Linked DNA regions of Homo sapiens. The protein of the gene in region 1 interacts with the protein of each later gene in a pairwise test. Each region holds a gene or a part of one and is shown on either strand. Other genes may lie near its edges. The genes, in order: APIP, TSC22D4 and NUDT18.

Region 1 (3,745 bases):
CTTCTGGACTTAAAATCCCCTTACTAGCTCAGTACTACCTTAATCAGAGACAGAATAGGTGCCTTAAAGGAACGTAGGAACCAAACGGCCATTTTCCTGCTGATGGGACAATATTGAGACTAAAATTTGGCCACAGAAGACATTTAACTCCTATCTGTTGAAAGCAGAATTTTCCTGTTCACAGAAGAGGCTTAGAGCCCGATTTCTAGTGGTGCAAAAGGAAGCTGCAGTGTTACCATAAAAGAAAAAAAAATGTGCCTCATGAAGATTTCTGTTTCCACTAGGTGGCACTGTTGGTTTAGAAATACTATTTGCTCGAGGCCGGGCTCAGTGGCTCACGCCTGTAATCCCAGCACTTTGGGAGGCCGAGGCAGGTGGATCACTAGGTCAGGAGATTGAGACCATCCTGGCTTGTAATCCCAGCACTTTGGGAGGCCGAGGCAGGTGGATCACTAGGTCAGGAGATTGAGACCATCCTGGCTAACACGGTGAAACCCCCATCTCTACTAAAAATACAAACAATTAGCTGGGCGCGGTGGCGGGCGCCTGTAGTCCCAGCTACTCGGGAGGCTGAGGCAGGAGAATGGCGTGAACCCGGGAGGCGGAGCTTGCAGTGAGCCGAGATCACGTCACTGCACTCCAGCCTGGGCGAAAGAGCGAGACTCTGCCTCAAAAAAAAAAAAAAAAAAAAAAAAAAAAAACCAAAGAAAGAAATACTATGTGCTCGCCAGAGTAGTAGTAGAGAGACCTGGAAATGCCATGCACTCTCCAGACCAAGGGCAGAGAGAGAGACGCTCACTCTGGGTGGGAGCGGGGAGGAGGGGGAGGAAAGGAACCCTCTGTTCCTAGAAGATTGCAACAGCATTCCTGAGCTAAACTCCTGGTTACTAAATTCCCGCACATCAGAGAGAGAGAGAGACTGTGGATAGAAAAAGAAGGAGAGTTTTGTGACAGGATAGCTGGGGATTCTCTGCCAAAACCCGAAATGGGCTGTTGGAGGCTGGGTCCGACCCAGAGGCCTTTGAATAACGCCAGGGTGTGTCCTGGCCAGAACTTTCCCAGCCTCACGCGATGGTAAGGTTTCCCCGTGAAAGGAAACTGATTCGAAACACGGCCGACACTCCCAATGACCCGTGGGTATTGAGGGGGGTTCTCCGTGTTCTCCACCAGCAAGCCTAACATCTGAGGCCTTAGAATGGCAGTCGTGATAAGCATATTTTTAACCAGCTGAAGGATGCCTGTTGATTGATTTGATTTGATTTTAAAATAGAGGCCAAGAGCCCCTCAGAATGATAGAACAGATTTTAAGCTTGCTCCTATACTCACCATCCGATGAATGTTGTACCTCGGATTCTTGGCCAACACACCAAAATGATATGGCTCTGATAACTGAAGGAACACCAGGGCCCTTTGTCTCGCACCAATTTAGATAAATAACATGGACACACGTGGAGTGGTTTTAAGGAATGGAGAGTTTAATAAGAAAGAAGAAAGAAGCTCCCCTGTACAGAGATGGAGGGTGGCTCCAAGCAGAGAGAGAAAACCCCAAGTGGAGCGGGAAAACAGTCGGTTCTATTAGGAGGCTGGAGGAGGTGGTGTCTGATTTTCATAGGGCCCAGGGGATTGGTTTGACCAGGTATGTCACTCAGGTAGCCCACGAAAAAAACTAGCCTTCCCACCCTAGCCTTTTAATATTCAAATACAGGCCACCATGATGTTCTGCACACGTGAAGATATCTGGGGTGGCCATGATGCTTGACACACATGGTGACAAGAAGAGGGTGGGAATCACCATATTGGATGGACCCGGTTTCTAATGGCTGGCATTTGCACATCAAAGCTTGCTATCCTGGCCCTTTAAGCTGCTTTTCTGCTAGAAAAGAAATGTTTTTGGAGCTGCATTATTAAAAGAAAAAAAAAAACCTTACTAAGCTGCATTATTAAAAGAAAACAAAACCTTACCAACCTTACCCTCTCTGTCTAAAATAATTTCTTAATAACTCCTATAATAGTTTTGCTATTTTAATTCAAGAATTTTCAGCTCTTTAAAATGAAAAGGAAACTGACATTGTGTCAGATTTCATGCTGACTGCATTATGTCCATTGTATCTCATTTTAATCCTCACAGCATTTTCATTGTGTGGATAAGTAAACTGACACCCAAAGTCATGTAGGCAATAAATCCAGTAATGTGGATTAGACTTTTAAGTCAGCTAACTCCAAGTCTAAGTTGAATCAGAACTTTTAGAAATTTCTAGATTCTCAAGTTTTTAATTTTATATTTTGAAGTTTACTCCATCAGTCATCATTTGTAATACTTAAAATGAGTAAGTAGAACATTAGCACTAAATCTGGGGAAAAACACCACAATTTCAAGTATTCAGCTAAGTAGCTGAGAATTCAACCTGTTAAATAATGATCGCTTTTTGAACTCAAAGATGTTTTTCCCCCTTTACCCAGTGACCGGATCTGTAAAGGCATGCTTCCTTGTTGTGATTTTCTCCACAGTGAATCTCATTTTGTTCACTGTTACCTTGAAGGTAGACCTCAGTGGGGTCTCCAGTTTATGTGGGGATTTTTCATTAGGTTTCCTGGAATTGATCAGGCCCTGGGTTTTGTCTCATGCTTCTAGTGGCTTACATGGCTATCAAAATTGAAGTTCAAGGTCACCAGAGTTTTGCAATACCTTCAGGAACATTCTGGCTTTGGCGCTCACTTCTCTCCCAGGTAGTCTCATTTTCCTTTGTTGTTGTTGTTGTTGCTTTATTATGCTTTTAAGTTCTGGGATACGTGTGCAGAACTTACAGGTTTGTTACTTAGGTATACACGTGCCATGGTGGTTTGCTGCACCCCTCAACTCATCATCTATGTTAGGTATTTCTCCTAATGCTATCCCTTCTCTAGCCCCCCATCTGCTGACAGGCCCTGGTGTGTGATTTTCCCCTCCCTGTGTCCATGTGTTCTCATTGTTCAAATCCCATTTATGAGTGAGAACATGCAGTGTTTGGTTTTCTGCTCCTGTGTTAGTTTGCTGAGAATGATGGTTTCCAGCTTCATCCATGTCCCTGCAAAGGACGTGAGCTCATCCTTTTTTATGGCTGCATAGTATTCCATTGTGTATATGTGTCACATTTTCTTTATCCATTCTATCATTGATGGGTATTTGGGTTGGTTCCAAGTCTTTGCTATTGTAAATAGTGCTGCAGTAAACATACGTATGTGTCTTTATAGTAGAATCCCAGTAATGGGATTGCTAGGTCAAATGGTATTTCTGGTTCTAGATCCTTGAGGAATCGCCACACTGTCTTCCACAATGGTTGAACTAATTTACACTCCCACCAACAGTGTAAAAGCATTCCTATTTCTCCACATCCTCTCCAGCATCTATTGTTTCCTGACTTTTTAATGATCGCCATTCCAACTGGTGTGAGAGTCTCATTCTCATTTTTTATGGCCCCTGTGAAACTTTACTTTCTTGCCAGCTCAACAACTTATTTTGAAATATTTTAAAAAATAATTTATTCAGCATTTGTACTTATTTTTAAGATAAGGATTGTATATTATACTGCCCAAAATGGAATTCATTGTATTTCTTCTTCATTTATTTATTTATTTATTTATTTTTGTTTTCATTAATTTAAACCACAAAAAAGCAGGAGAAAATGGTGTGGGCTCTTTTTTCTAAAGAAGTAATCATTGGACTTATAAAAATAACACTTGATATTTATCTGTCTGTATACACACA
Region 2 (3,745 bases), on another chromosome or scaffold:
AGACCACCCTGGGCAACATTGCAAGATCCCCATCTCTACCAAAAAAAAAAATTTTTTTTTAAAGAAATTTAGCCAGGCGTAGTAGTGTGTGTCTGTGGTCCCAGCTACTTGGGAGGCTGAGGCAGGAGCATGGCTTGAGCCCAGGAGTTCCAGGCTGTGGTGAGCTATGATCGCACCACTGCACTCCATCCTGGGCAACAGAGAGAGAGAGAGACCCTGTCTCTAAAAAAAAAGGCGGGGGCAGGTTGGGGGAAAGGGGAATAGTATAACATCTAGGATCTGATTTCAAATAGTCCAGCAAACTACAGCTGGCCCCCACACAATGTCATTTCATTGAATGTCATTTCATTATAACATTGATGATTTTCTAAAAATTGATTTTGGGCTGGGACCACCATCTGTGTGGAGTTTGCATGGTCTCCCCATGTCTGCATGGCATGTTTGAAAATTTTCATAATAATCCACTTTTTTTTTTTTTTTGAGACATGGTCTCACTCTGTTGCCCAGGCTGGAGTGCAGTGGCACAATCTTGGCTCACTGCATCCTCAACCTCCTGGGCTCAAGAGATCCTCCTGCCTCACAGCCTCCTGAGTAGCTGGGACTACAGGTATACATCACCACACTCAGTTTTTTTTTTTTTTTAAGATGGAGTCTCACTCTGTCACCAGGCTGGAGTGCAGTGGCGTGATCTCGACTCACTGCAACCTCCGCCTCCCAGGTTGAAGTGATTCTCCTGCCTCAGCCTCCCGAGTAGCTGGGACTACAGGTGCCCGCCACCACACCTGGCTAATTTTTGTATTTTAAGTAGAGACTTGGTTTCACCATGTTGGCCAGGATGGTCTTAATCTCTTGACCTCGTGATCCGCCCGCCTCGGCCTCCCAAAGTGCTAATTTTTTAAATTTTTTGTAGAGATGGGGATCTCGTTATATTGCCCAGGCTGGTCACGAACTCCTGGGCTCAAGCGATCCTCCCACCTTTGAGTAGCTGGAATTATAGGTGCACATCACCATGCCCAGCTATTTTTTTTTATTTTTTGTAGAGATGGGGTCTTGCTATTATATTGTCCAAACTGGTCTCAAGCGATCCTCCTTCCTCGACCTCCCAAAGTGCGGAGATTACAGGCATGAGCCACCACCGGGATCCGGCAATAATCCACTTTTAAAAATAAGGAATGGGGGGAATAATGCAGTTGCTGTGAAAACCAAAGGAGAATGACAGTAACAGCCACAGCTGCCCCACAGCAGGGACTGGGAACTTCTGGGTGGGCATGCAGCACACCTCCCGGCCTGTGCCTTCCGTCTCTTCTGTGTGTCTCTAGGCCAATGGCAGCAATTGACTACAAGTAAGGGAATCCCTCGCCTCCCTGCAAGCTCCTCCCCTTTCTCCCCGAGCCCCGCCCCCTGCAGCCCCTCCCTGCAAGAGTGGGGCTAGGGCCCGGCAGGTGTGGGGTTAAGGGAGTCTGTTTGGGGCCCCCAGGAGCAGCAGCCTAAGCAGTGGCTGCAGCAACTGCAACAGCAGCGGCTGTGGCAGGCCTGGCCCCGGGCCAGCTGGCGGGAAGCCCCAGGAGGGAGGGAGGGAGGAGGAAGGGGAGGAAGAGGGGAAGGAGGAGGAGGAGGAGGAGAGGAGCAGTCAGCAGGCCCGAGGAGGCAGGACTTCCTGGTGTGGGGGTTGTCAACAGCCCAGAAAGAGAAAGACGGAGAGGCAGAGACCCAGGGGAGCCGAGGAGCGGAGACACGGACCCAGCAGGGTCACGCGGGAGGAGACTCGGGACACCCACTCGCTGGCTGCCACCGGGAGCAGAGGGGGGCTCGGCCGCCCCCTCCCACATCAGTCTCCAGACCCTTGGGGCTTCAGAGGCCGCTCCTAGGCTCCTCGGAGGAGGCGCGGGTTTCTTCTTTTCCGGAGAGCAAACTTTCCTCGGAGATGCCTGGCAGGATGAGCCGCGGCCCCCGGAGAGGACGGGACAGCCTCTGATCGCCGCCTGCGTGCCCCGCCACTGCCCATGGCCAGGAGGCCCCAGGGAACGGACAGCCCGACCTCTTAGGCGCCGGGACCCTCAGGCTCAGATCAGTGGCCGAGGCCCCAGAGGTAGGGTTCAGGGCTGGGTGGGGCGCTGGGGGGTAGCCGGGCAGGGCCTGCCCCAGAGATGTGGGAGCTGGGGTGAGGGTGGGGGCTCGAGGCCCAGGAGAGGTCTCTCTGAGTGGCCGGGCCAGGCTGGGGAGCTGCTTCAGCCTGGTTCTCCCAGGCCCTGGAGTCCGAGCTCTTGGGACAATACGGGCCCCCTGAGTCAGAATCCCAGGCGAGAAATGCCCAACTCTGGGACTCATCTGCCTCTTTCTACTCTGAGTGCCTTCTTGGATCCAGTCCCCTCTGCCCTGGTCTCTGTCATCTCTTGCCTGTCTCTGGGTCTCTGACGGTTTCCCCTTCCCCCACTCTGCTCCCCGGAGAGGAAGCCCCGGAGGTGGCCTGCCCACTGGTTTCACACACACACACACACACACACACACACACACACACACACACACACACACTCTCTCTCTCTCTCTCTCTCTCTCTCTCCCCCTCTTTTTCCAGTTTGCAAACTCAGCTCTGGAGTTCAGCAGCAACAGCAGCAGGAAAAACCTGCCCCTGCTCCCCCCTCCCGCCACCTCCCCTCTCCTCTTCTCCCCTCACCCAGCAGGCACCCCCGGTTCCCGCCAGGCCCTCCTGCCATGTCGGACCCAGACGTCCCCAGGGGCTCGGATGTCCCCGCCATGTGGCCCCCTTGTTCCAGGGGTGCCTGAGCCCCTTCAAGGAGCCCCAACCCACCCCCAACCTTGGCCCAGCCCTGAGCCCCAGGGACCATGAGCGGGGGCAAGAAGAAGAGTAGTTTCCAAATCACCAGCGTCACCACGGACTATGAGGGCCCTGGGAGCCCAGGGGCTTCGGATCCCCCTACCCCACAGCCCCCAACCGGGCCCCCGCCCCGCCTGCCCAATGGGGAGCCCAGCCCCGATCCGGGGGGCAAGGGCACCCCCCGGAATGGCTCCCCACCACCTGGGGCCCCTTCCTCCCGTTTCCGGGTGGTGAAGCTGCCCCACGGCCTGGGAGAGCCTTATCGCCGCGGTCGCTGGACGTGTGTGGATGTTTATGAGCGAGACCTGGAGCCCCACAGCTTCGGCGGACTCCTGGAGGGAATTCGAGGGGCCTCAGGGGGCGCCGGGGGCAGATCTTTGGATTCCAGGTTGGAGCTGGCCAGCCTCGGCCTGGGCGCCCCCACCCCACCGTCAGGCCTGTCTCAGGGCCCCACCTCCTGGCTCCGTCCACCCCCCACCTCTCCTGGACCTCAGGCCCGCTCCTTCACTGGGGGACTGGGCCAGCTGGTGGTGCCCAGCAAAGCCAAGGCAGAGAAACCCCCACTGTCGGCCTCCTCACCCCAGCAGCGCCCCCCAGAGCCTGAGACCGGTGAGAGTGCGGGCACATCCCGGGCTGCCACGCCCCTGCCCTCTCTGAGGGTGGAAGCGGAGGCTGGGGGCTCAGGGGCCAGGACCCCTCCACTGTCCCGGAGGAAAGCTGTAGACATGCGGCTGCGGATGGAGTTGGGTGCTCCAGAAGAGATGGGGCAGGTAAGACCTGGGTTCTAGGGCTGGCCCATCAGCCCTGGCCTAACCTCTATCTTGAGCCTCCTTCCTCCTCCTCCCCCCCCTCTCCTCCTCCTTCTCCATCACTTTATAAGATCAGATAGCCCTCTTCTCTGTGCCTGCC
Region 3 (3,745 bases), on another chromosome or scaffold:
AGAGATGCATCCTGCGTTGCTGAAGTTCCTGAGTCCAGTTCTAAGGCAGCTCTACAGGCACATTTCGCCAGGCATGGTGGCTCATGCCTGCAACCACAGCACTTTGGAAGGCCAAGGTGGGAGGATCACTGAGGCCAGGAGTTCAAGACCAGCCTGGGCAATACAGCAAGACCCTCGTTTCTACAAAGAATTAAAAATTAAAAATTTAGCCAGGCGTGGTGGTGCACACCTGCAGTCCCAGCTACTCAGGAGTCTGAGGCAGGAGGATGACTCGAATCCAAGAGATCAAGTCTGCAGTAGGAGCTGTGATCACGCCACTGCACCTCCAATCTGAGCAACACAGTGAAACCCTGACTCTAGGGGATAACAAAAGTCACATTTCATGAGGGCAGGCCTTGCGTGTGGTAGCAAGAGCTATGGTGGAGAGGGACCACCCCTGAGGGTTGGTGGGCTGCCTGGGGACGGTGCCCAGTGCTGGACAATCCACACAGCTCCTCTCCAATTGTTGTGGCTTCCCAACACCCCTGTAAAAGAAGAATTGCTATGATCCTGCTCTACAAATAAGAAAATTGAGGCCCACAGCTCACCCAGGAGCACAGAGCAAGCCAGTCAGCAGTGGCTGGCCATCTGGCTGCAGGTCCTGAGCTTTGTCCACACCACCAAGCCACAGTCTCCCTAGCAGGGAGGCGCACAAAACTATCAGAGGCAGAGGAAAGGGGTGGCCTCTGCCAGGTGAGGAGCCAGACGGCCTGCTTCGCAGATCCCTTCCAGCTGGCTTTGCCTTCCAGTGCTGAGGTGGGGTGAAGGAGGAAAGGCCGAGCTGGGAGAGGAGCAGGCGCTCGCCACAACCACCCCCACCCTGCTCTCCACGCGCCAGGTCCTGCACGCTGGGTGGGAGGGTGACGACAAGGATGGAGGAGCAGGGCCCCACCCCCGCCCTCCCAGGGCGCACCATCTGCAGCAGAGAGGGCCTTGAGCTGCGTGGGAAATGCGGTAGGCAGAGGGACACTGATGAGGGTGGGCCGGCTGACGGCAGCCTTCTCTCAGCCCCGGACCCCTCCCGCCATCCCCAGCCCTGCCCCCTCCCTCCTTCCAGCGCCTGTCACTCTTCCTGCCCAAACCAAGCATTTAGCACTTAGCCTCGAACCCTCAGCTGACTCCTCATCTAGGACTCCGTCCATCTCTCCAACTATTGCAGAATCTCCTTCAAGGCAGGGGTTTATGTCCCCCACCCCACGGGCCATGTGACATTTATAACTCTTTGGTGGAATGAGAAGAAAGGTATTTGGGATATGATCAACTCCGGCAATGCCATTGTGTGTTTACGGCAACAGCGGGACAGTGGTTCCAGGGGGCGGCCCCGGGCCTCCGTGACGTCACCGGATTGTCGCGTCACCGTCGCCTACCCCGGCGGCGCAACGCGCCCTGCAGGAAAGATGACGTCACCGTCGGAGCTCCTGCAGACCAGTGCGCGCTCGGGGAGTTGGCGAGCGGGTGGCGGCTGGGAGACGTCCCGAGCGCACGGGACTGACAGGCGGCAGAAGCCGGGCGGGGTCCGCTGGGCTCCGGACCCGTGCCCCCCCAGTTCCAGGGCGGCCCCGGGCGGCCCCGCCCCCTCGGTGAATGCCGCGGGCCGGCCAATCCGGGCAGGCCGCGGCGCCGCGCAGCCTATCAGCGGCCAGAGCTCGCGTGCGCTTCCGCGTTCGCGTGCGCTTCCGCGTTCTCGTGAGCTCCCGGCCCGCTGCCGCAGGGACTGGGAGCGGGCTCCGCAGCGCACTCTAGCCCGCGGCTCGGCTCAGTCGGTCTGCGAGGATCCGGCCCGCCGCCCCCCGGGGGACCCGATGGCCTCGGAGGGCCTGGCGGGGGCGCTGGCTTCCGTGCTGGCTGGCCAGGGGTCCAGCGTGCACAGCTGCGACTCGGCGCCGGCCGGGGAGCCGCCGGCGCCCGTGCGGCTGCGGAAGAACGTGTGCTACGTGGTGCTGGCCGTGTTCCTCAGCGAGCAGGTGAGCGGCCGCCCCCGGGCCCGCCGGGCCTCGGGAGCGCGCAGCCAGCCCAGGTGGGGACAGAAGACCCAACGGCCACAGCCAGCGCTGCCGCGTGCGTGGCGCTTCCCAGTTTTGCAAAGCACTCCCACTCCCACTCGCATCTGTGTCCTGCGTTCGTCCCGATATGCAGAAGAGGAAACTGAGGCCCGGGGCCTGTTTGTCTCATCCGACTAGGCCTCATTCCTTCCCTTCCCCAGAGTCTAGCGGAGTGCCCAGGGCCCCTCAGATAGCAGTGGCTCAATCCCGGCTTACCTTCAGGCCTTTGGTGCTGATGCCTGTAGTGGGCGATGTAATGACAACTAGACGGGGCCAGGGCCATAGGGCGGGGTTGTACAGAGCGGAGGTGGGGGTCGTGTTTCAAGCCAGACCCCAGTGTGAGGACCCATCACAGTTTGTAAACCACGCCGTTGGAGGCGAGAGATACACAGTGGCAGGTACAGACGCAAATCAATCCAAGACAGACAGACACATGGTGACCCTCACTCTGGGGCCTCATCTCCAGCCCCTGAAGCGGCTTCCAGGAATCTCAGCCCTTCCTGAAATGGAAGTCTTCCTAAATCCAGAGAGAGACGAATTGCAGAGAGGAGAGGGCTGCAGCCCCCAGCGACACGAGGGCAGGTCTCCTGGAGCGCTAGCTGGGTTGAGAGTGTCCACCCAGAGGGGAGTCTTGGGCGACTGTGTTTGAGATGCCCCCTGGTCCCGGGGCGAGGGAAGGCTGTGGCAGGAAGTGAGGATCCTCTCTCCTCTCAGGATGAGGTGCTACTGATCCAGGAGGCCAAGAGGGAGTGCCGGGGGTCGTGGTACCTGCCTGCGGGGAGAATGGAGCCAGGGGAGACCATCGTGGAGGCGCTGCAGCGGGAGGTGAAGGAGGAGGCGGGGCTGCACTGTGAGCCCGAGACACTGCTGTCCGTGGAGGAGCGGGGCCCCTCCTGGGTCCGCTTCGTGTTCCTCGCTCGCCCCACAGGTATGGCCCACCTGGAGGCAGTGTGAACAGGGCCAGTTGACACCTTTCCCCCAGCTCCTCGGTGAGGTGAGCCCCTCTACAGCCAGTCCTGTTATGGCTGGCACAGCCTGGCATGGGCAGATTCCAGCCTTTGGGCTGGGGGCCTCTCTCCTGGGTCAGGGATGTCTGTTGACTCTGCCAGAGCTGCACTTCTCTCCACACAGACCCTCCCTGCCCCATCCCCCACATCTCCCCCAGGTGGAATTCTCAAGACTTCCAAGGAGGCCGATGCGGAGTCCCTGCAGGCTGCCTGGTACCCACGGACCTCCCTGCCCACTCCGCTGCGAGCCCATGACATCCTGCACCTGGTTGAACTAGCCGCCCAGTATCGCCAGCAAGCCAGGCACCCTCTCATTCTGCCCCAAGAGCTACCCTGTGATCTGGTCTGCCAGCGGCTCGTGGCTACCTTTACCAGCGCCCAGACAGTGTGGGTGTTAGTGGGCACAGTGGGGATGCCTCACTTGCCTGTCACTGCCTGTGGCCTCGACCCTATGGAGCAGAGGGGTGGCATGAAGATGGCCGTCCTGCGGCTGCTGCAGGAGTGTCTGACCCTGCACCACTTGGTGGTGGAGATCAAGGGGTTGCTTGGACTGCAGCACCTGGGCCGAGATCACAGTGATGGCATCTGTTTGAATGTGCTGGTGACCGTGGCTTTTCGGAGCCCAGGGATCCAGGATGAACCCCCAAAAGTTCGGGG

The links.
Region 2: the proteins of APIP (region 1) and TSC22D4 interact in binary tests that used the Homo sapiens proteins (3 or more experiments, as listed by UniProt).
Region 3: the proteins of APIP (region 1) and NUDT18 interact in binary tests that used the Homo sapiens proteins (3 or more experiments, as listed by UniProt).

What each region holds. Positions count from the first base shown.
Region 1 is NC_000011.10:34,895,743-34,899,487, reverse strand, and holds part of APIP (methylthioribulose-1-phosphate dehydratase), read left to right. Parts: intron 1-2,632; coding exon of another isoform or gene 2,633-2,727; intron 2,728-3,745. UniProt on the Homo sapiens protein: Catalyzes the dehydration of methylthioribulose-1-phosphate (MTRu-1-P) into 2,3-diketo-5-methylthiopentyl-1-phosphate (DK-MTP-1-P).
Region 2 is NC_000007.14:100,477,138-100,480,882, reverse strand, and holds the start of TSC22D4 (TSC22 domain family protein 4), read left to right. Parts: upstream 1-1,668; 5' UTR 1,669-2,089; intron 2,090-2,575; 5' UTR 2,576-2,844; coding exon 2,845-3,606; intron 3,607-3,745. Other genes in the region: TSC22D4-C7ORF61 (uncharacterized protein LOC122198330), read left to right, coding at 2,845-3,606.
Region 3 is NC_000008.11:22,107,397-22,111,141, reverse strand, and holds the start of NUDT18 (8-oxo-dGDP phosphatase NUDT18), read left to right. Parts: upstream 1-1,841; coding exon 1,842-2,003; intron 2,004-2,795; coding exon 2,796-3,009; intron 3,010-3,246; coding exon 3,247-3,745. UniProt on the Homo sapiens protein: Mediates the hydrolysis of oxidized nucleoside diphosphate derivatives. Hydrolyzes 8-oxo-7,8-dihydroguanine (8-oxo-Gua)-containing deoxyribo- and ribonucleoside diphosphates to the monophosphates. Hydrolyzes 8-oxo-dGDP and 8-oxo-GDP with the same efficiencies.